Homo sapiens: one gene and its partners. The protein of the gene in region 4 purifies or fractionates together with the protein of the main gene of each other region. This does not show direct contact. Each region holds a gene or a part of one and is shown on either strand. Other genes may lie near its edges.

Region 1 (4,260 bases), on a different chromosome or scaffold from region 4:
CAGGAGATCTTCTGACAACGGTCCTAGCCTTGTTGGAAGTAGTTAGGAAAGGGGAAATGGAGGACATAACAATAATAATAATATAATAGAATAATGGCTAGTGCTTATTGAGTACTTACCATGTGCTAGGTAAGCACCTAAGATTACCTCTCTTTTAACCCTGAGATAGGAAATTTCCCAGTTTGCAGATGAAGAAACTGAGAAGTCACTTGCCTAACATCATCACTAGGCCAGCTGGTTGGTTCATGCACTCTTTGATTTGAAGCCAAGCGGTCTAAGTCCAGAGTTATCTTCTTAAGCCCCCACTGCATTGCCTCTGGACAACACAGACTTCCATTTGTCAGAGGTGTTCAAACCAGGCACCTCCATCTTGAGTGGGGGGCTGGGTAAGATGAGGCTGAGACCTGCTGTGCTTCATTCCCAGGAGGGCAGGCATGCATTCTTAGTCACAGAATGAGACAGGAGGTTGGTAGGACTGATTTCACCATATACAGTTCGGGTCACAAAGACCCCTATGATAAAACAGGATGCAGTAAAGAAGCTGGAGAAAGCCCACCCAAACCAAGACTGCAATGAAAGTGACCTCTAGTCGTCCTCACTGCTCATTATATGCTAATTATAATGTATTAGCATGTTAAATACATTAGACACTCCCACCAGCGCTGTGACAGTTTATAAATGCCATAGCAACATTGAGAAGTTACCCTATATGGTCTAAAAGGGAGAGAAACCCTCGGTTCCAGGAACTCCCCACCCTTTTTCTGGAAAACTCTTAAATAATCCACCCCTTGTTTAGCATATAATCAAGAAATAACCATATGTATACTCAGTCCAGCAGCCCATTCCCTGCTCTGTCTATGGAATAATCACCCTTTTATTCCTTTACCTTCTTAATAAATTTGTTTTCACTTTACTCTGTTGGCTCGCTCTTGAATTCCTTCCTGTGCAAGCCAAGAACCCATGTGGCCCCCAGGCTGAACCCCAATTTAGGGGTTCATCCTGTGACCCATTGGCTGGAAAAGGTGTAGGAAACCAAGTAGCTTTGTCATTGTCCCAAAGCTCCACTCTCACCCCCACCCAACAGCCACATCATTATGCCAGCCAGCTCCAGATCCTTGAAAAAAGTAGCCCTCTAAAAATGTATGGAGGTTTCCCAACCCATCTATCCAGAGGGGGCTGAGACCTAGCTGTTTGGAAGGGTGAGAGTTGGGAGAGGGTAGTTGTCACCTCCTGAAGGAGTTCCTAGGGTGACCAGAGGGCATGGGCGTCTTCTCCCGGACAGGTTGAGGGGGAGGCTGGAGGGCAGGGTGGCTGAAGCAACAAGGGAGCAGATATCCCCTGGACTGGAAAGGACATCTTGATGGGTCCCTGGCCTGCCTCTCTCCTCAGGCCCTACTTACGCAACACTGCGGCCAGGCTCAGTGCCCCTCCAGCCAGGCGCGCGCACGCTCACAAGACAACATCTGAACCGCGGTTTGGGAGCCCAGCCAGGAAGGAGGGCTCTCTGGCCGCTCTCCGACCCGAGCGGAGCGCAGTCCGCCCCCGCCCCACGCGCCGGGCCCTCCAGCGCCTGCCCCACTCCTCCTCCCTCCTGCCGGGCCAGCTCTCTCCTTCTTTTCTCCGACCCTTTGGAGAAGTTCGAGGAAACTTTCCGAGGCCCAGCCCTTGACCAATTTGTCCATTAAGCCAGGAGAAAAAAGATGCGCTCTCTGCTTCCCTCCTGCCCCAATCACTTCCCAAATGGCCCCCTCGAGCTGTTTGTTTAAAGGTCCCTCTCCGGATCTGTGCCGAAGGTTCCTAGAAATTTGCCAAGCCCCGCTTTGACCAAGCTCCCTCCCATCCTTATGCGCGCATAAGTTTACCCAAATTGTGTGCCAGAGCACCGTTCCCAAAGTCCTACATTAGCAAAAACGACCCCTGTAGCTGTTTGCCAAAGGCTTACCTAGACGCTTGGCAAGAGCCCTTAGCAACTGCCCAGATGTGTCCAAAAGTTGTTTACAAAGACCGCCCCCCCCCCCCGCCAAATGTCCCAGATACTAGAGGATGTCCCCGCTATTTACATAAGAGTCCCTTTCCAGTAGTTTGCCAGGTCACCCCTCTCCCACTCTCTGGCTTGTTTTTCGCCCCACTGCTGTATGCTGAAGGTTGCCAAATTGTTTATCAAAGGTTTTCTTTGCTTACAAAAGATCCCCCACCGTTTGCAAGAGATCACTCCAATAGCTTGCCAAAGACCCCCCAAGCTGTTTACCGAAGCCCCTCCCCCACGCTGTGTGCCCACCGCCGAGGGCAGGGGGAGAGACACCCCCATCCTTTGCCTCCGAAGTTTGTCTAAACGTGGTTCCTTGAGGCCAGCGCAGCAACTCACCACTGCCAACTCTTTGTCCGTTTTGGGGGCGACATCGCCGGGGAACTTGATGATGGGCGACGGCGCGGCGGCGGCGTGGCTCAGCAGGCAGCCCAGGAGACAGAGCGCCCTCAGGGGACCCGTGAGCGCGCCCCGGGCCATTAGCGCCTCCATCGTAGCGCTCCCTGGCCCCGCGCGTCGCCCGGGGGTCGCTGGCTCGGTGCGTGTGGCCGCCTCGCCGCCTGGTTGGAGCCTGCTCCGCGGCGCAGGGCTGCGCTCCGAGGGTCCGCTGGCTCGGTGGCCTGGGGTTTGCCCGGCTCAGCGGCTCATGGTCCGGCCCCCGCGCCCCAGCCCCCGCCGCCGCCGCCGCCGCCGCAGGTCCTGGCAATCCCTTTGTATGTTTAAAGCCCCAGATGCGCAGCCTCCAGCCACCGCCTGAGGAAGTCTGGATGCAGCGGAAACAAGGGAGGGCAGCCGCCAGATGTAGCCGGCTGGGCTGGGAGGGAGCTGGCAGAGCGGGGCTGGGGGCGGGGGGCGCACTCGGGCCCGCCCCTCTCTGCCCCACCCCCCTACTCGCCCTCCTCCACTTTTCTCCTCTTTTTTCCTTTCTCCACCTCTTTTCCCCGGCCGCCTGCTACTCCTGGCCTCTACGTCCACCCTCAGTGCACGACCTCGTCACCCCACTTGCCTCTCTCGCGATCTGGGCGCACAGCCTCAGAACCCCCTGCTGGGAAACATCTGTCGCTCTAGGCCCTTGACGTCCTGAGGTTAGAGAGCAGCGGTACTACTAGGAGGGACGCCGGCTTGGCTAGGACACCCTGCACTCCCTGGGGTCAGGAACGGGAAGGAATGGTCAGAAACAGATGATCAGCCACAATGATAGATGGTCAGAGACAGAAATTTTCGATATTTAGGGATAGGGACAGAGAGATTCTGGGATGAACAGAGATGGAAAGAGAGAGATGGAAACAGAGACAGTGGAAGGTCCCAGGTTGCTTCCTTACCTCTTTCCTTCTGCAAATGTGTAAGCCTTAACTTGGCCTCGTATAGTGCGAGATGCTAGATACACCTTGGGAAATAGAGCAGTCAGGGGCCCCGCGTTAGAGACGTTGGAACCAGAGCGACTCCATCTTGAACAGGGGGCTGGGTAAAATGAGGCTGAGACCTGCTGGGCTGCACTCCCAGGAGGGTCCGCATTCTCGGTCACAGGATGAGATAGAAATTGGGCAAGACTGGTTTAATAAGATAGAGGTCACAAAGACCCCACTGATAAAACAGTATGCAGTGAAGAAGCCAGCCAAAACCAAGATGGCAAAGAAAGCGACCTCTGGTCATCCTCACTGCTCATTTTACGCTAATTATAATGCATTAGCATGTTAAAGGAAGCACCCACCAGTGCCATGGCAGTTTATAAATGCCATGGCAATGTGGGGAGGTTTACCCTATATGGTCTAAAAAGGGGAGGAGCCCTCAGTTCCACGAATTCCCCACTCACTCTTGAATCCTTTCCTGCGCCAAGCCAAGAATCCATGTGGCCTCTCAGGTCGAATCCCAATTTTGAAGTTCTCCCTGTGACAACCGTCTCTGAGGAATGTCTTCTCCCTCTCTCAGGAAAGACAGTTGAGAGATAAGCTGTGATGGGGAACTCCAGCAGGCTGTTGGGAACGCCTGACTTCAGCCCCTAAACTAGTAAAGACAATCAAGGAAGGCTTCCTGGAAGAAGTGACTTCTGAGCTGAGACCTGAAGAGCTAAAGAGGTGGAGTGCTGGGTGGGGAATATGGGGAATGTTTTAGGGAACATTGACAATGGCCCAGAGATGAAAAACAGCAAGAGGCACTGGAGAAGAAAGTTTTTTCTATCTGAAAAAGGTGGGGCACAGGGTGAGGGGATGGAGCTGGAGGGGTCAGTAAGGACC
Region 2 (3,500 bases), on a different chromosome or scaffold from region 4:
AGAGGCATCCTTGGAAATTGGCAGATTTGGTTTGGAATCTCAGTGAGCACTTCTTCTTTAAACTCAATGGAAGCTAAGCAGAGTTTATTAATCTAAAAACTTCTTAGACAATAGGCCTGATAATGGGGAATGAATCCCTGCTTAATTATCTCACCAGATGACTGGGTAGTGACCTAAGATACACTTTCTTCAGTTTCTGGGTAGGATTTTAGTGACTGGTTTCCCCTGGGATACATAGATAACTCTCCTGCTGCAGTCCTTACCAACTGCCAAACCCAGATCTCACCCATCTCTAGCTTCAGTAAGTTTGAGTCTCCTCCCAGCTCATCCACTTTATTCCACCAAAGAAAAATGTGAACAAAAAAGAAAGACATGAATGTTTTATCAACCAGTGGTAACTCGTCAGTTTCTCAGCCCTATGCAGGTATGCAAGCCTACGCTTATCCCCAGGCATCTGCCGTCACCTCCCAGCTGCAGCCCGTTCGGCCTTTGTACCCAGCACCGCTCTCTCAGCCTCCCCATTTCCAAGGTAGGGAGTAATTCCCTCAGTTTCTCATCTTCCGCTCTTGCTGTGCTTTCCCTCTTCTTGCTCCTCCTTCATTTTCACACCAACAGCTCTCTACTCATTGTTTCTTCTCTTTTTTAACAGCTTTGTTGAGATATAATATGTATTCCACACATTCATTCATTTTAAATGTGCAATTCAAAAGTGTTTTAGTAAATTTGCAGAGTTGTGCATTCATCACTACAATCCTATTTTAGAACATTTCCGTCATCCCCCAATGTTTCCTTGTGTCCACATTCTGTGTTTTTTTCCTTGGATTTTCTCCCCTGGCCCTTTTAATTCCTCTGTTAGAGTAGCTAGAGTTTAGAGAAAATAGTAAAAGAGCAAAACATTGGAGGAAATTGGGAGAAAGTTGAATACTATAGGTGTTTAGTATCTCTAATGAAAGCTACTCTGTTAACATTTTTAAATTATGAAAATAAGAGACTTTTATAAAAAAGTCAAGCAGTACAAAAGGGTGTAAAGTGAAGTTACTGTCCTTCCCCTCCATAAACCCCCTGACCTTGGGAAACTGTTGTTAACAGTTACTTGGGTAACTTTTCAGATATTTTGTATGCATGTACAAATGTGAGTATCTAATGTAAAAAAATCAAACCAAGATAAAGTGTAAACTGCTATGATGGAATCCTGCCTTGTTCTGCTATTAGTCTTCTGTTTAGTAATCAGCTTTGGTATTAGGACAGTGGTAGGAAGAAGCCAGTATGTCCTGCAACATAATTTGTGGTTCTGGACTGGTCAGGATTTCCTGAATGCAGCCTTTATCTGGAAGCTCTGCCCTTCTCCATCTGGGATACGCTTTTTCATCCATCAAAACTGTCATCTCCCTCTGTGAAGCCTTCCCTGACTATTCTCTGTCCCTCTTTCCTCTCTTCCCACAAACACAACTGTGTACGCGTGTCACCAAAGAGTTAATCGTGCTTTTCTCTGTGCTACTTTTATACCTAGTATATGGTCCATTGTTTTGCACTTAATACACTCTCTTGTAATGATTTGTTTACATGTCAGTCTCCCAGCCAGACTGAGAGCTCACCAAGGGCAGAAGCCGTGTTTTGTTTACTGCTGTATTCCTGGTACCTGGTACAATGCTTGGCATACAGTTGGATGAACGGGAAAGTAATCTGAGCTGCCGGTGCTGTGGCAGTGCAAAGTGGGCATATTTGTGCCCTTGGACCAGATGTAGCCCTTGATGCATTTTGCAGGAACACGGCTTAGTTATTGTTTACTTTGAAGCCCTTTTGCCTCTACTCTCTCCCATATATCTTCTCCTGACAGGGTGAAGTCACCTATAGCATTTCCTAGTGTATGGAAGTATTAATTTCTTTCTTTACTGGAAGAGCTACTAGCTTTTCTTCATACAGTTTCCTCTGCTCCAGTTTCATAAGTTTCTTTTTGGCTTGTATCTGTTTAGGATCAGGTGATATGGCTTCATTTCTCATGACTGAAGCCCGGCAACATAACACTGAAATTCGAATGGCAGTCAGCAAAGTGGCTGATAAAATGGATCATCTCATGACTAAGGTGACTGAGTCAGAGTTGGGGTGATGTTGAAAGTGGGGATGTAAACAGGGAGCAGCCAGAACTGTAGGTAAACTCTTCTTTGATTTCCTGCATTGGTAGTAGTGAGAGGTTATTTCCCTACAAGGATAGTTATAATTATGTTGGGATCCAGTTAGTAGGAGAAAACTCTAACTTAACAGTTAGAGATTGTCCCAGGAACTCATTAACCCCCTTAACAACAGGGTCAAATCTTGGGTAAATTGTATTTCTTCATTTTATAATTTCTCACAAGGTCTTTCTGGTATCCCTTTTGTAGGTTGAAGAGTTACAGAAACATAGTGCTGGCAATTCCATGCTTATTCCTAGCATGTCAGTTACAATGGAAACAAGCATGATTATGAGCAACATCCAGCGAATCATTCAGGTGAGGGTGATTAAGAACATACCACTCAGGCTGAAGGTCTTACCCATCCTCTCTTCTCAGAGGTACTACTCTTTAACACCTCCACCCCAGAAATAGCCTGTGATAAACGCTACACTGGGTTAGACAATTCTAGAAAATCCATTATGGCTTAATTCTGTCCAAGTGACTTATCACTATATATTCTGAAGGAAACATTGCTTTTTTGACCATACTTCAGAATTTCACTTCTTTTTTTAGCCATTTATTCACTCAATCCATTGGACCTAGTGATTTGTATCCATCAGGTGTAATCTGATGTGTTGTTTTAACATACATGTGGACATAAGTTCTAGTGTTTTGTCTCAAAACATGTTAACAATGTCACCTGTCAGTTCAAGTTGATTCTCTTCTATCTGGCACTTTTCTCCCAAGACACTTAAATTGTACATCATATATTTTGAAATTAGGAAAATGAAAGATTGAAGCAAGAGATCCTTGAAAAGAGCAATCGGATAGAAGAACAGAATGACAAGATTAGTGAACTAATTGAACGAAATCAGAGGTAATGACAGGTACGGGGCCTGGCTAGGATGGACAAAAGGGTTTATTATGTATATGCCCAGCTTAAGTACACGTATTTGTTTAGGGCAGTACGTATGTATTTCTGCCATTTCTGTTTCCTGCCTGTCATGTGAATTATTGCCTGTTTTCTGAGAGGCATTGCAGTAGAAGGAGCTTAGTAGGCTGTGATGTAGGGCAGACCTGTGTTTGATTCCTGCTCTGACCCTCATTCATTCTGTGGCTCTGGGCATGTTATTTATTCCTGCTGGCCCTAGTTTCTTTATCTTTAAAACTGGTATTATTACTTACAGAACTCTGGTGTCAACTCTTCTCTCTTCTGTGTGGGCTAACTCTATTTTATCCATCAGAACTCAGCCAAAACTTCACTGATTCCCATATAAGACCTAAGGATTTTGTACTTTTTGTAGATACTTCTGAAGATTTGGAGGGGTGGGTGGGGAGGATGAGTGGAAC
Region 3 (2,999 bases), on a different chromosome or scaffold from region 4:
AAGTTACATAAGAAGTAGTGATGTTTTGATGCTCCCTTGTAGACAGCAACTAGCCAGGCAAATGGCCAGGAATACAATGCTATTTATTTGTTTCACTCCAAGACTTATCTGCAAGGGTGAGTTAAGATGTCTTTCGCAAGCTATTGACTAAGGGGGAAGAGATTTTGTTTGGGAATGAATAGAGTTGTTGGTTTTTTCCTGGTATGATAGTCAAAAAATTATTGGAACACAGAGAGCCTACAAGAGATCCATGATTCTTAAAGGACATTCCCTATGTGCACACATTGTCTAGTGGGTTCAAATCGCTAAAAAACCAGGAGGGCTCTTCTGACATACTCAGTACTGCCCTCTCTGCCACCTTTTCCTCCTGGGAATGGTCCTGAGAGGTAAAGCAGAAGCAGAACAACTCCCTGCGGCCAGGTCTGCTCTGTCACTTGACTCCCAACAAAGAACCCTTTTTAAGTCATCCCAAAGGTCCCACCGTGGCACCTTTAATAATTAAATAACTTAAGGAAATAATTATGTATGGAATAAATTCAGGAATCTACAAGTTTTGCATTCAAAACTTTCTGGGAATAGTTTTGGCTTCTGGCTGTGCCAAGGGGGAGATTTCCAGCAGTCTGCACCATGCCTCCTTCTTTGGCTCAGAGCCCATGAGCCTTGATCCCTACCAGTGTCCCTCACCCAAAGGCCTGGACAAGAACTGAACAAGGACCCACTGGGCTGTGGGCATAGGCACTCTTCACAGGGATTACATGAAACTGCATTTCCTCCCATCTCCTCTTCTAGGGGAGGAATATCCACTCTAGCTCATGCCCTGGAGCCTCCTCACCCTCCTCCCTTGGAGGATCACCTGGGCATGGACCTTCCTGTTTTCTGATCCTGCCCTTAGGGAAATACCAAGGCCTTATTCTCACATGGAAAAGTCAAAAACTGTAATTGCCACAGGGAATTAAAGGCCATTCTAAGAAAAAAATACAACTTTATCTTTGGGGTAGATGAGTGATAAAATCTTCTGTCTTTTGGGCTGATGTTCTGGGACATCTGGGACATCTGGGGTTTCTTCTGCCCCTGTGTCAAGAAGCCCAGGAGAAGAATAAGCAAGACTGAAGACCTCTGCATGCCAAACTGGCTATGACTCTTTCATGAATCTCCACAAGCTCTGCCTGGAGCTGGTGGGACTCTTTTGGTCATTACATGAAGAAACAGTAGTTAGTGTATGAGGGATGATGAATGTGCCCAGAGGGCCCCGTGAATTCAGATAAATGCATGGTGCTAGTGGGCCAATGCTGAAAAGGCCCTGAATGTCTCACTCTTTGAAGCTAGTGCCTTCTACTTCTTAATGATCTTACACCTCTGTGGGGCCAGAGACCAGAGCAGGATTTGTACTCCAACCCCCGCCAGAACCCCCATTGCCAAGTCTGAGAAACTCAGGATTGGGAATGGCTCCCGTAGGGCATAGATTTCACTTGGCCTTTTCCTGCCCAAACACATGCACCTTTGCCAAATCCTTCCCTCCAGTGGCTCAGATGCTTTTTCTATGTGCAAACTGTCTCAGACAGTCGTCTCCACTGGCTAATGTTGGTTCGTTCAAAGAGCAAATGAGGCTGGCAACCCATCTTGGTGCTCACCACTCACAGTGTTCTGTGGGTAGACCCTGCACCCCGGACGTGGCAAGGGCCTTCTCTCCCTCTCTCAAATCCTGGAGGGCCCAGCACACCCTGACTCATCCTGGAAATCACACTGACAGCTCTAAGTGAAGGCCTCAGAGCCACAGACCTGACTTGCTTAGAAGCACTAAAAGAGGTTTAATAAGGTCGAAAACGCTCCACCCTGGCTAATAAACAATGTGCTCTTAGGGCACAGAGAAACAATAGGACTTTAGGCACTAAAAAGTGACACTTCGCCCAGATCCAGCCTGGGAGAAGACCAGAGAGAAAGCGGGTGGGAAAGTAAGAAATTCCCAGCCCTTACTGGGTCCACACCCTACACAGGTCGGAGGAAGGTGCAGGGGTGATGGAGGAGAGTATCCTTCAGAACACGAGTCTCGGGAGCCTGCCACCACACAATGCAGCCTTCCTAGCTTTCCAAGCATCCTCTCCATCTGACACTCAGTACGGTCTGGATCAAGTGGGCGGCCAACCCTAGGAGTTTAGACTGGGCTCCCTTGATGCTTCTGTGTTCCCAAGAGAATGCCTGGGGAAGCCTGGGGTAGGGAAGAAAAGATTCTCTTTTATTTTGGAAACAAATCAAAAGGGGATTAGGGAATGAAGCACCTTAAGCAATGCCGTCTTAAGACTTCTTTTTGAGACCTTAGGGTCTTCGCAGGCATAACTTTGGCTCAACATTTCCCTTCTAAAAGCCAAGAATGGCCAGCAAGGGAAGGGGTGGGGAACAGAGGGTGGGAGGAGGGAGATCAGGGGAGGTCGGTGCTGAGAGGCGGTTCCTGCCCTCCTCAGCTGCTCCACCATAAGAAAACGCTGCTCCGGCCAGCACAGGGCGCGGGAGGGCCCGCTCCTTCTCCCTGGTACATAGGCATTATCTCTTTTTTAAAATCTGTATATAATATATATATTTATATTCTGTATATATATATATTTATATATATATATTTATATGGTCTATGTACATGTATTGCACAGGCCTCTTGCAGCCACCCTGTTCCTGCCTTGTCAATGATAGCGATTCCTCTTTTCTTCACTTTCCGACGTGTAGTCGCGGGACCTGATGCCGTTCTGAAGGTTGATGAGCGAGTCCTTCATCTGCAAGACAGAAAACCCCACCCCAGGCCTGGGTCTGCGCTTTTAGTGGGATTCTCCACCGAGCAGCCCTCTCCCCACACCCGCCTAGGGCAGGCCTCCAACCACGCCATGGGGCTGAAAAGAGTCGGGCACCTAAAGCAAGGGTGGTTCTCAACACTGTTTCAAACAGAAAGGGGACAGTCAGGCTGGGTGCAGTGACGCACACCTGTAATCCCAGCACTTTGGGAGGCAGAGGTG
Region 4 (3,500 bases):
GGCTGTGTCCCCACCCAAATCTCATCTTGAATTGTAGCTCCCTTAATTCCCTCGTGTCATGGGAGGGACCTGGTGGGATGTAATTGAATCATGGGGTGGGTCTTTCCCATGGTGTTCTCATGACAGTGAATAAGTCTCACGAGATCTGATGGGGAGTTCCCTTGCACACACACTCTTGCCTGATACCATGTAAGAAGCAGCTTTGCTCCTCATTCACCTTCAGCCATGATTGTGATGCCTCCCCAGCTATGTGGAACTGTGAGCCAGTTAAACCTCTTTCCTTTATAAATTACCCAGTCTCAGGTATGTCTGTATCAGCAGCATAAGACTAGACATGTATACACAAAGCCCCCTTCCTACCTCTCTGAGCCTGCCTGACTTCCAGCCCTTCCTCCCACATGATGACACCAGTGCCTGTCACCCCAGCTGGCCTTTGTTTAGTATTCTGCTGGGTGGAGTCACCTGCCTCTACAGCAGTTGATGAACAAGACAAAACAGCACCCCCAACCCCGAGGGAATCCGCAGAGGCTGGCCCTCTTAAGAGTCTTTTCTCTCTGGATAGTGACAAAGACCAAAGGATGACAAGGTGACCTAGGGGAAAAATCACGAGTGATGTGATGCCATGTAAGTTACCCATTGCAGTACTCTTAGAAGGTGACCCACAGCCCTAAAGAGTTCCTGTCCCTCCAAGTATATCTGTCCACACTTCACACGTGCCCTTGAGCAGAGCCCAGCCCAGAAAGTCCTTTCCAGGCCAGGGCCAGGTTACTCCGCCTCCTCCTGTAGTTGATGTGAGCTCTCACTTTGCTTTTTCAGATTACGACGTTTGTGCCGAGGCTCCCTGTGAACAGCAGTGCACGGACAACTTTGGCCGAGTGCTGTGTACTTGTTATCCGGGATACCGATATGACCGGGAGAGACACCGGAAGCGGGAGAAGCCATACTGTCTGGGTGTGTTGGGAATGTGCTTGTTTCCAGCTTCTGAACATGTGCCTTGTTCAGATGGTTCTGTCCTTGGTTGGACCCTTCAGTTCTCATACTTGTTGGATGGAGTTGTGTTTGATATTATCCTAGGGATAGCTTATCACTGCCCTTCATCACAATTACTAAAACCAATTAGGCCCAAGGAATTCTTCCGGGATTTGGTACCAGCAAGGTCCTAATTGGCAATGAGACATAAGAGCAGGAGAAGGGGAACATGCCCAAATATAAACTAGAATAATGTAAAACAGAGTATAAGTGGTCAGAAAAGTAAAAACGCAGACAGAACAAAACAAGAATAAACATTCTCTTAGAAGATGGTTGGGGAAAAAAGGAAGTAGCCATATGGCAGACAGGTTGGGAGGAAGTCAGAGGGAGCTGAAGCCAGCCACCTGGGCTGCAGCTGAGCAGAGCCTGCACCATCCACGGCACCAGCCTGTTTACTGCCACCCTCATGAACTGGCTATCCCAGCCGTGCACTCCTTGAGGTTCTAAGGCAGCTTTATGGCTCATTTTCCATTGGAACCATGTGTCTGAAAGTGTGGTCAGTTCATAACTAACCCAAGAAACATCTGGGGTCCTCGTTTGGGGAAAAAAAAAAAAAACCTGGCCTTTTCTCCACACCTAATGAATCACAACTCTGAGAGTGGGTCCAGACGTGCATATTTACACCAATGCCTCTAATGATTCCTAGGCATGGTGAGATTTAAGAATCAACTGGAGGATGAACTGCCAGAGACTAGCAGGTAGACCTACATGGAAGATAAACCAGCTGTCATGAGCATCCCTCTTTCTCTATCCTAGCAGGGGCTCTAGGGAGCACCATTTCTGAGAAGTTCTAACCGTAGGTCCTCTGGTTGCTCCCTGTCGGCATTTGGGAATGGTGCCCCACAATGCCAGACAATGGGATTGTGACTCCCAAGTGAATGGGGCAGGGATCTCTGGCCTCTCCTGCAGAGAAAGGTACAGGCCATTCCATGAGGCTCAGGTCCCAGGCACAAGGCTCTTACTTCACTTTATAGCAGCTACTGTACCCTATTCTTTATGCATTTATTTTTGAGACAGGGTCACACTCTGTTGCCCAGGCTGGAGTGCAGTGGCGTGATCATGGCTCACTGCAGCCTCAACCTCCCGTGCTCCTGTGATCCTCCCACCTGAGCCTCCTGAGTAGCTGGAGCTACAGGCATGCGCCACTACACCCAGCTAATTTTGTTCGTATTTTATAGAGATGGGATTTTACTATGTTGCTCAGTCTGGCCTGGAACTCCTGGGCTCAGCTTCCTGTCTTGGCCCCCCCAAAGCGCTGGGATTACAGGCATGAGCCACCGCACCCAGCCCCCTGTTCTTTTTGTTTGGGGGTTTGGGGACCAGCAGAACTTGGCTTCTACTAAGAGTTCTATTTCTATCTCTGATTTCAACTTCATCTCCTCTCTCTCTGGGCAGTACAGGCAGCATCACATGTAGGTTTAGGGCAGGGACACCTGGGGAAAGGCAGTGAGCCTGAGGAATTGCAGAGGAGGATGCAGCTGCAACATCCGGTCTACAGGTGACATAGTTGGTACTGCCGGGGAGCGTCCAGATGACCACCCTCCCCTCAGCGTACACAGGGACTGAGTCACTGGCAGCTTGTGCAGGGAGTGGCTGGGAAGTTGTTGCCATCCTCAAGTTCAGGGCTGGCCTGTGTCTACGCAGCACATGTGCACAGTCTGGGGCTGCATGCCACGGCTCCCACCCACTGCTACCCACTGTCTTCAACCAGTGAACAGGAAATGGAATTGGGCCTCCCACTGTCCTCGTGGTGGGAAACGTTTTTGTTTCCACCATGCGGCAGGGGAGCAAGTCCATGATGTGCATAGTTAACATGGGCTCTTCATGGGGACTTGTTTGATGGTCCCATGGCTCATTTCCACAGCTCATGAGGGGTCTGTCTGGGTTCTTGATGAGGCAGAAATTTCCTGGGGAAGACTCTTTCCATTAGACCCATTATGACTATTTTCTTTTATTAGAAGTATCTTTTCCCAGGTGCCATCATGGCTTTTAACTGGGAAGGAGCCATTCCTAAGTGACCTGTGGGGTCATCGTCATGCTGTTTGGAACCTATACCATAAAGGGAAACTTAAAAATCCCCAGCACAGTAGGGCACTCACAAAAAATCATCTCTATAATGTTTGCTTCTCTGAGTGTTGTCACTGGTGATCTCATTGTCATTTCTAAGCAGCCCTCTGAAGTGTTTAGGGCAGGCTTCATTGTTATTGTTCTGTAAGTGAGATCTCTGAAGGCTAGCAGTCTAAGCCACATGACTTGCGAGTGGCAGAGCCACAGCCAGGAACCCCATCACTGATCAGCCTGTAACAATGGCCACTTGGCCAAAAGTGCTGTTTTTATGGATGACCCACATTTCTAGCTCCCTACTTTATTCCAGGCTGCTCTGATCAAGGTCGGCCCAAGTGTCCTTCATTGTTATTAACAGAGAGGCAAAGCCCAATGTCATCTGTTGTATTAGAAGTGAATTCTCAGAA
Region 5 (2,678 bases), on a different chromosome or scaffold from region 4:
TTTTTTTTGAGATGGTGTTTCATTCTTGTTGCCCAGGCTGGAGTGCAATGGCTCGGTCTTGGCTTACTGCAACCTCTGCCTCCCTGGTTGAAGCAATTCTCCCTGCCTCAACCTCCCAGGTAGCTAGGATTACAGGTGCCTGCCACCATGCCTGGCTGATGTTTTTGTATTTTTAGTAGAGACGGGGATTCACCATGTTGATCAGGCTGGTCTCGAACTCCTGACCTCAGGTGAGCCGCCCACCTCGGCCTCCCAAAGTACTGGGATTACAGGTGTGAGACACCGCGCCTGGTCTGATTTTTAAAAGTTAATTAATTCAGTTTAAAATTGACCGATGAAAATTGCATGTATTTGTCATGTCCAATATGACGTTGTGGACTCTGCACACAGCGAGGAATGGCTACATCGAGCTAGGCAACGTAGGCATTCCTCCTGTGCGAATCATTTTTTTGTGGTGAGAACGCTTAGAATCACCTGGATTAGCAATGTCCAATAATGTAATACATTGTTATTAACTGTAGTCACCGTGTTGTACATGATGATTCTTGAATTGATTTCTCCTCTCTAACTAAAACCTTGTTTCCTTTGAGGAATTTTCCCACTTTGAGTGCCCTGGTGTCCCCTGTCTGCTCAGCTCAGGGAGTTTCTACTCCTCCCTCAGCTCTCAGCTCAGAGAGAGCTTCCCCTGACTTTGCAGAGGAGGTCAGCTCCACCGCCCACCTGTCCCCTAGATCCCTGCACACTTACCCACAGGAAACTTATTGCAGTTCGCAGCTGCAGATTTGGACAATTCTTCGATCAATATCTGTCCTCCCTTCTAGACGTCCACCTCCAAAGGGCAGGCATCCTGTATGTGTTTCTCACATTTGCGGAATTAGCAGCTCATGAAAAGCGTCTTTAAACAGATTGATAAGTAACTGAGATATGGTTAAAAGAAAGAAAAATGAACAAATGGGTGGGTTTGGGGAGATGCTGGTCAAAGGATAGAAAATTTCGTCTAGACAGGGAGAGTAAGTTCAGGATTGTGTAACATAATGACTAGAGTTAATCACAATATATCATACGCTTGAAAATCGCTAAGAGGGCAGATTTTAAATGTTCTCACCACAACAATTAACTACGCAAAGTGAGGTTATATTAATTAGCTTGATTCAGCGATTCCACAGTGTATACCTGTATCAAAACATCATGTTGTACACCTTAAATACATGCAGTTTTAATTTGTCAATAATAAGGAATGAATGAAGACGGGACGAGTGAATTGAAGCCCTGCCAGCTCTCTGCCCCGCTCAGGGATTTTGCTAATTTTGACACAACCTTCCTGTTTCAGGGCGTCAAACCCGCCCTTCCTCCTCCACCCCAAGCCCAGTTGAGATAAATGGGGTTTTTCAAGAGCCTTAATAACAAGGAAATGCAAATTAAGCTGAGAAGAAAGTAGAAACTATAGAGGAAAACCCAGAGGTGGTGTCTCCACAGAGATCTGCATTAGCAATGGGGACCTGTCACGGGCTGGGCATCTGCTGTGAGCAGATCAGGGCTGGGGGCTTCACCCTCACCCCACCAGACCCTCAAAGGAGCCTGGCAACCCCCGTCCCACACTCAGTCCCACCCGGGGACCGGCCAGTGCCCTTCAGGCCCCAGCACGAGCCATCTCCAGAGCCCTCGCTTCCCTGTCCCTTGTCCTTCACGAATGACCCTGTCATCCCCATCGTGTGCCTCCCTCCCACCCTCTGTCCCTCTAGAAAGTGGCCCTGGGCTCTGCAGCAGGCATGAAGGGCTCCAGGCTGCTCCGACACTTCCCACGTGACCCTGAGCAAGGCCCAAGTTGTGAGCAAGTCTCAGGGTCCTCACTGTCAACTGGGAAAAAACTCTGCAGTGATGAGAATCACATGCACGTAGAAGGTGCAGGAGGCGTGGGAATGTTCTAAGGTTGGGCTGTGGTCGTGGCTGCATAACTCTATAAAATTGCTAAAATCCCTGAATTGTGATCCTAAAATGACGTGTGTGGCATGGTGACTTCCTACAGTGGACGCTGAGATCCTTCTTTGCTTCCCTCTTAGGGGCCCTTCCCAGACCCTCCATCTCGGCTGAGCCAGGCACTGTGATCTCCCCGGGGAGCCATGTGACTTTCATGTGCCGGGGCCCGGTTGGGGTTCAAACATTCCGCCTGGAGAGGGAGGATAGAGCCAAGTACAAAGATAGTTATAATGTGTTTCGACTTGGTCCATCTGAGTCAGAGGCCAGATTCCACATTGACTCAGTAAGTGAAGGAAATGCCGGGCTTTATCGCTGCCTCTATTATAAGCCCCCTGGATGGTCTGAGCACAGTGACTTCCTGGAGCTGCTGGTGAAAGGTGAGGACGTCACCTGGGCCCTGCCCCAGTCTCAGCTCGACCCTCGAGCTTGTCCCGAGGTCCCTGGTCCCTGTCCCGGCTGCTGTCCTCTCTCTGTGGCCACCGTTGCCCTCTTCCTGACCCCAAGCCCTCCCCTCCCCTTCTTCCTCTGCACACACCTCCCCTCTGCCCTCACACCTGCTTAGGTCCCTGGAGCCCTGATCTCCTCTGGACGCCACAGATGGCGTGGACACTCAGTCCCAGCATTGGGTTGGCTCAGAGCTGGCTCTGCTTGGCTGGGTGGGGAGTGGGTTCCCAGAGATTAGGGGGCAACCCCCCTACAAG
Region 6 (3,500 bases), on a different chromosome or scaffold from region 4:
TAGAAGCAAAGTCAAAAGCCCCTGTCCAACATTGTCTACAGTTACACCCCCAAGGGTTATAGAGCAAAGTCAAAAGCCCCTACCCAACACTGTCTACAGTTACACCCCCAAGGGAGGAGGGGGAAAGAGAAAAGAAAAAACCCCAATAATGTTACATAGAAAAAGAAAAAAAATCCTACCTGCATTAAAATGACTACAAAAATTGGAAGCACTAGTGTCTCCAGTTGAGAAGGAATAGGGCAAGAAATCAGGCACCACAAAAAATGTGAATGTAATAACAACACCAAAGGATCACACTAGCGGTCAAGCAATGGTTCCTAGCCAAAATGGAAACTCAGAAATGACTAAGAATTCAAAGCATGAATTGCAAGGAAGCTCAATAAGATCTAAAAGAAGGTTGAAAATAGACACAAACTTCTAGAGTAATCTGGGAAATGAAAGAAGAGATAAACATCTTCAAAAGAAATCAATGAGATCTTATGGAATTGAAAAGCTTACTTAAGAAATTTCAAAATACAATTAAAAAAATTATCAATTGACTGGACCAAGCAGAAGAAAGAAATGCAGAGCTTGAAGACTGGTCCTTTAACCCAGTTAGACAAAAATACAGAAAAAAGAATTTTAATAAATGAACAAAGTCTTTGAGAAATATAAGATTATGTAAAGCAGCCAAACCTACAAGTTACTGGCATTCCTGAAACAGAAAAAGTAAACAACCCAAAAAACATATTTGAGGAAATAATTCAAGAAAATTTCCCTAATCTTTGTCCAGATACAAGAAATCCAGAGAACACCTGTGAGATACTGTACAAAATGAACATCAATCACCAAGGCATATAGTCACCAGAATGTCCAAGGTCAACACTAAAGAAAAAATCTTAAAGAGAGCTAAAGGAAAAGGTCAGATCATGTACAAAGAGAAACCCATCAAGCTAACAGTAGCCTTCTCAGCAGAAACACTACAAGCCAGGAGAGATTGGGGGCCTATTTTCAGCATTCTTAAAGAAAAATTCAAACCAAGAATTTCATATCACACCAAACTAAATTTTATACATGAAGAAGAGATAAAATCTTTTCCAGGCAAGCAAGTGCTAAGAGAATTTAGTTACCACCAGACCAGGTGACAAGCAATCCTTAAGGGAGCTCTACACATGGAAATGAAAGAAAAATACCTGCTACCACAAAAACACTGTTAACATAGCCAAGAGATCCTACAAAGCAACCACACAATATAAAATATGAAGAAACCAGCTAACAAATTCACAATATGATCAAAACCTCATATATCAAATATTAACCTTCAGTGTAAACCTCTAACCACCCCGTTTAAAAGACAGAGTGACAAGTTGGATAAAAAACAAGATGCATCTGTCTGCTGTCTTTAAGAGACCAATCTCATATGTAATGACACCCACAGGCTCAAAGTAAAGGGTTGGAAAAGGATCATGCAAATAAAAAACAAAAAAGAGCAGGGGTCATTATTCTTATATGAGATATAACAGAGTTTAAACCAGCAAAAATAAAAAGGACAAAGATGTGCATCACATAATGAAAAAGGGTTCAATTCAACAAGAAGATTTAACTATCCTAAATATATACATACCCAACATTTGGACCACCCAGATTTATAAAACAAGTACTTCTACACTTACAAAAAGACTTAGCCAGTCACACAATAAGAGTGGGGGACTTCAACACCCCACCAACAGCTTTAGACCATCAAGGCAGAAAATGAACATAGAAATTCTAGACTTAAATTCCACACTTGACCATTCGAACCTAATAGACATCTATAGAATACTCCACCCAACAACCAGAGAATTACATTCTTCTCTTCTACACATGGAACATACTCCAAGATTGACCACATGCTAAGCCATAAAGCAAGTCTCCATAAATACAAAAAAATAGAAATTATATCAACCATACTCTGACCACAACAGAATAAAAACAGAAGTCAATATCAAAAAGATCTCTCAAAAGCACAAATTATATGGAAATTAAACAATTTGGGCCAGGCGTGGTGGCTCACATCTATAATCCTAGCACTTTGGGAGGCTGAGCCAGGTAGATTGCCTGAGCTTAATTTGAGACCAGCCTGGGCAACATGGTGGAAGCCCATCTCTACTGAAATACAAAAAATTAGCTGGGTGTGGTGGTGCACGTCTGTAGTCTCAGCTACTCAGGAGGCTGAGGAATGAGAATTGCTTGAATCCGGAGTGGGAATCGCTTGACTCTGGGAGGCCAAGGCTGCAGTGAGCTGTGATGGTGCCACCACACTCCAGCCTGGGGAACAGAGTGAGACCCTCTCCTAAAAAGAAAATTGAAATCAGCTGTTTAAAGGAAAAAACTAATAAGCTGGTTTTTGAAGGCTATTTTACACATGGCTTTTTAACTATTAATGGCCACTTTGGAAATGGCTAATACAGCTGACTGGTATGAGATATTATGGGTTTCAGACTAGGAGTTATTAGTTATAATTCTGTAATTATGATTATATTGCTGAGTATATAAAAAATGAGTATAATACATAATAGCACAAGCCAGGCATGGTGGCTCATGCCTGTAATCCCAATGGCTTGGAAGGCTGAAAATGGATGACTGCTTGAGGCCAGAAGTTTGAGACCAGCCTGGGTAACACAGTGAGACCCTATCTCTAAAAAAAACAAACCCCAAACAAACTTAGCTGCCATGGTGGCATGTGCCTGTGCTCCCTGCTACTGAGGAGGCTGAGGTGGGAGTTCTTGAACACCAAAACTCCAGGCTGCAGTTAAGTCACGATTGTGCCCTGCAGTCCAGCCTGGGCGATGGAGCAGGACCCTATCTAAAAGAAAAAAAAAAAAAGAGTAGTACAAAGGTTTGTAACTTTGATTAGCGTACTGAACATAAACAGAAGGTTTTAATGATAAAGACATCTGGAAACTAACATGAGACCATGATGACAGAGTGTCAGATTTATGACTAAAGAGGTTTGCTAGTGTTGGCTGAAGAATGTGTTCCTTTGAGAAAAATTGTATTTGCACGAATAAAACCATTTGCATCAAAAGAAATGTCAATATCTCAATGAAAATTTACAAACAAATCCCTAGAAGTATAACAGGAAAACTGTTAAAGTAGTATAGCAGGCAATTCTTAATGGGTTAGGTCAGAAAAAATATAAAATCTCACATACATAAAATAGTTTTACATAGATGTCACAGAATTCTTGAATTCCCTGAAGCTCCAGGTGTCAGGTTAAGAACTCTTGTTTTAACCTCTTTTCCCATAGATCACACTAAAACATCTTATTCTTATTTCCTTCTTTGCCTCTGCTGTACCTTGCTGTTAGAAACTCCAATGCCCCTGCTAAGAGTATAACACAGGAGGAGCCCCTAAGTAAAATTCTGAATGCATTTTCTAACTATTTTTGGGAGTCAGGTTTCAGCGTTTTAATTCAACTCTACTTAGATATGCTATGCACTACATAGGTTCCAGTTCCCTTGGATAGATTACAAAAATCT
Region 7 (3,500 bases), on a different chromosome or scaffold from region 4:
GTAGACACGAAGGCCATCCAGAGTCCTTCACAACCTTTCAAGGGAAGCCGACACTTGGCCCACCCAGTCTCCGCTGTCCTCTCCTGTCCTGCAGTGTGATAAGACGCGTGGGCCATGGACACCAGCTCTTGGTCCAGCATCTCTCCTAAGGCCATGCTCCACTTCTCCCTGCCTCCAAGTGGTGCCTAGGTCCCCAGCAGATATTCTCAGCGGACAAAGTGAGAATGGAAAGACAAACTGGAGGGCAGGTTGGGAGCTTGGTCTGCTCTTAAGGAGGCAGCTGCAAAGCCACTTGCAGACCCCACTCCTTTAGGCTCGTGGTGAGGCTGGATCACTGTCCGCAGTTTCAGGTGAGGTGCCCAAGCCACTGAAAGGAGGAATCGCTCGTCTGTCCTGCAGGACCAGCCTCCAGCAGGGCCACGGCTCAGCTTCAGCTTTCTTGCCTTCACATCTCACAGTGAACTAGCTCCCCCAGGGGCCCCAAGGCCCAGGCTCAGCCTGGCCAGAGCCAGAGCTCCTGCTATTACACCCTCGTGGCCCCTCACCTCTCGGCATGGTCCGGAGGCGACGGCAGCTCCTCAGTCCCCTCCCACTCCTGCTGTTCCCCCTGGACATGGGGCACACGACTCAGGACCAGGCCAGAGGCAAAGGCAAGGAGCAGGCAGTACGCCAGCAAGAGTCCCTGTCCACGGGAGCCCATCTTCCTGCCGGGCCCTGGTGGGAAAGAAACACACAGGGAAGGCACCGAGTTAGGAAGGAGCTGCACAGAGAAACAGCCTGAAAATTGGGGAGAGAAACAGCCTGGAAATCGGAGGTGCTTCCCCAGCCTCACGCCACTGGGAAATGCTGCAGTTACACAGCTTCTGGGAGGACAATCACTCTCACACACCCATGCATGCATACACGCACTCACGACGCACTCACGTGCACACACGCACATGCACACACATTCACATACATGCAACCCCCACACATGCACACACTCAACACACATGCAATCCACACATGCACACACAGTCACATACACTCACATGCAACCCACACATTCACATGCACCCAACACACATGCAATCCACACACATGTAATCCACACACATGTACACACAATACACATGCACAGTCTCAACAATGAAACCTACACACATGCATACATATACCCACATCACATGCACACTCATGCAATCCACGCACCCATATGCACACTCTTAACACACATGGAATCCACACGCTCACATGCACACAGTCAACACACATACACTCACACTCACATGCACATACATGCACATACACAGTCCACACACATGCACTCACACATGCAATCCACATGCTCACATGCACTCAACACACATGCACAACTCACATGCACACATACCCAAATCACATGCACACTCTCAACACACATGCACACACATGCATACATATACCCATATCACATGCACACAGATTCACACACACATGCAATCCACACACATGCACACTTTTACATGCACTCACACACATATACCATCACATGCACTCACATGCAATCCAACATGCACACACATTCACATACATGCAATCCATGCACACATGCACACACATACACACATGCAACCCACACACACATGCAACCCACACATGCACACACATTCATATACATGCAATCCACACACATGCACATTCGCATACATGCAATCCACACATGCACACTTTCAACACACGTGCACACATTAACATGCACACATATACCCACATCACATGCACACTCACGTGCACGCCCGCATACTCTCAACACATTCACATGCATGCACATCCACTCATGCACACATGCGCTCACATGTACACACACCTTCACATGTGCGCACACACTCTGCCCCCAGAGCCTCAGCCAGTCAGGCTGGTGTTGAGGGGTTGCTGAGCAAGGTGCTGTCTCTGCCCACCCAGCCTCTCGGGAAGGAGAGTCCATCAGCCGCTGGCCCCACAGACAATTGTATACCACCCCTCTTAGGACAGTAAGAAAAATCCCAAGCAAGCTTTGAATGATCATCATCCCTTAACTCAAAGCAAAGCTGGCTCAATGACCAGGTCCTTCACCGGTGGGTAGGTGGGTAGGAAGGTGGCTGCAAGCTGCTTTCTGGCCACCAGGCGGCGCATCAGCAGGTGTCCTTGGCATCTACTTTAGGGATGTGCCAAGCCCAGCCCCACAGAGCAGTCATCCTTCCAGGAAGCCAACCCCACGTCTCACTCCCAGAGCTTTTGGCAAAAGCTTGGGGCAGGACCCCCTCCATCCAGTATTGGGACAGTCCTTCTAGAAAGGGGTGCTCACGGAGGTGGGGAGTCCAGGGAGCCCGCGAGGGGCGGCACTTGGGCCCACATTAGGCGAACGCCCACCTGCCACCCTGTGAGCGGCTTGCTCCCCTCGCCCAGGAATCTGGCATCAGGAGTCGCAGGCCCAGCCGTTTCAGGTGGGCCGAAAACCTCCCCACCGAGGGGCACAGCGACTGTGGTCAACTCTAACCCCTCTTTGTTCACCAAAATGTAAAACTCGAAATGTCGCAGGCCCCGTGGGAACACCTCATTCAACACACAGCCGCCCAGTGAGAAGGTGGGTGAGAAGCGTCCCTCACTCCTGGCTGCCAGGCCGGCGTGGACTCCAGCTCTTTCTTGAGAGGCAAACAGTGAAAGCAAGGGCTCATCTCCAAAGGCCCTGGGCCAGACTCTTTCTCCTCTAACTCCTCTTATGTCTAAGGAAAGTTAAAATCCTGACAGATTTCTTTCTCTGCCCATATTACACACCAAGATGACCGCGACGTCTTACTCATCTTGGGAAGCCGGGAATTTCTTCCACACACACCGTCGCTCGGGGGCTTTGGAGCCTCTGCGGGGGATGTCTGTAGCGGGCTTTTTTTTTTTTTTTTTGAGATGGAGTCTTGCTCTGTCACCCAGGCTGGAGTGCAGCAGTGTGATCTCGGCTCACTCCGCCTCCTAGGTTCAAGTGATTCTCCTGCCTCAGCCTCCCAAGCAGCTGGGATTACAAGCATGCGCCACCACGCCCAGCTAATTTTTGTATTTTTAGTAGAGACGGGGTTTCACCACGTTGGCCAGGCTGGTCTGGAACTTCTGACCTCAAGTGATCCACCCACCTCGGCCTCCCGAGGTGCTGGGATTCCAGGCGTGAGCCACGGCCCAGGACTTTAGTGGGCTCTTGAGTGAAGTCTGAAGGGCTCCCCGCAGAGCCCTCACGCCAAGTCAACATTGCAGGGGAAGATCTGGAGTCCAGGGCTCTCCCGATAGAGCCTCCGAGGTGACAGTGAGGAGAGCAAGGCTGGCCCCCCCGAACCTCTCTCCTCCCCTGTCACACATACCTACACCCAGTCTTCACCACCTTGCATGGCCCACGCCCCATCTCTGCAGTGGCTTAGCTGGAGCCCCCACCTCCAAGTGTCCTACCAGCCAGCTGTCCCTCCCATGCGTCAGGGCCCAGAGACCGTCCCAATGACCAAGGAGCTGCTTAGGCCACA

What was found.
Region 1: the proteins of CCBE1 (region 4) and MMP2 purify together in Homo sapiens (co-immunoprecipitation; one large-scale study listed by IntAct). This does not show direct contact.
Region 2: the proteins of CCBE1 (region 4) and FKBP15 purify together in Homo sapiens (affinity purification with mass spectrometry; one large-scale study listed by BioGRID and IntAct). This does not show direct contact.
Region 3: the proteins of CCBE1 (region 4) and GRAMD1B purify together in Homo sapiens (co-immunoprecipitation; one large-scale study listed by IntAct). This does not show direct contact.
Region 5: the proteins of CCBE1 (region 4) and LAIR2 purify together in Homo sapiens (co-immunoprecipitation; one large-scale study listed by IntAct). This does not show direct contact.
Region 6: the proteins of CCBE1 (region 4) and SLC25A31 purify together in Homo sapiens (affinity purification with mass spectrometry; one large-scale study listed by BioGRID and IntAct). This does not show direct contact.
Region 7: the proteins of CCBE1 (region 4) and C1QTNF1 purify together in Homo sapiens (co-immunoprecipitation; one large-scale study listed by IntAct). This does not show direct contact.

Annotation. Positions count from the first base shown.
Region 1 is NC_000016.10:55,477,738-55,481,997, reverse strand, and holds the start of MMP2 (72 kDa type IV collagenase isoform 1 preproprotein), read right to left. Parts: upstream 2,801-4,260; 5' UTR 2,519-2,800; coding exon 2,366-2,518; intron 2,001-2,365; exon of another isoform or gene 1,943-2,000; intron 1,466-1,942; exon of another isoform or gene 1,401-1,465; intron 442-1,400; exon of another isoform or gene 123-441; coding exon of another isoform or gene 120-122; intron 1-119.
Region 2 is NC_000009.12:113,183,278-113,186,777, reverse strand, and holds part of FKBP15 (FK506-binding protein 15), read left to right. Parts: intron 1-414; coding exon 415-529; intron 530-1,973; coding exon 1,974-2,083; intron 2,084-2,378; coding exon 2,379-2,486; intron 2,487-2,932; coding exon 2,933-3,027; intron 3,028-3,500. UniProt on the Homo sapiens protein: May be involved in the cytoskeletal organization of neuronal growth cones. Seems to be inactive as a PPIase. Involved in the transport of early endosomes at the level of transition between microfilament-based and microtubule-based movement.
Region 3 is NC_000011.10:123,622,269-123,625,267, reverse strand, and holds part of GRAMD1B (protein Aster-B), read right to left. Parts: intron 2,763-2,999; coding exon 2,673-2,762; 3' UTR 1-2,672. UniProt on the Homo sapiens protein: Cholesterol transporter that mediates non-vesicular transport of cholesterol from the plasma membrane (PM) to the endoplasmic reticulum (ER).
Region 4 is NC_000018.10:59,466,924-59,470,423, reverse strand, and holds part of CCBE1 (collagen and calcium-binding EGF domain-containing protein 1 precursor), read left to right. Parts: intron 1-816; coding exon 817-951; intron 952-3,500. UniProt on the Homo sapiens protein: Required for lymphangioblast budding and angiogenic sprouting from venous endothelium during embryogenesis.
Region 5 is NC_000019.10:54,505,831-54,508,508, forward strand, and holds part of LAIR2 (leukocyte-associated immunoglobulin-like receptor 2 isoform a precursor), read left to right. Parts: intron 1-2,060; coding exon 2,061-2,354; intron 2,355-2,678.
Region 6 is NC_000004.12:127,736,900-127,740,399, reverse strand, and holds part of SLC25A31 (ADP/ATP translocase 4), read right to left. Parts: intron 1-3,500. UniProt on the Homo sapiens protein: ADP:ATP antiporter that mediates import of ADP into the mitochondrial matrix for ATP synthesis, and export of ATP out to fuel the cell.
Region 7 is NC_000017.11:79,041,169-79,044,668, reverse strand, and holds part of C1QTNF1 (complement C1q tumor necrosis factor-related protein 1 isoform 1 precursor), read right to left. Parts: intron 995-3,500; coding exon of another isoform or gene 701-994; coding exon 546-700; intron 477-545; exon of another isoform or gene 1-476.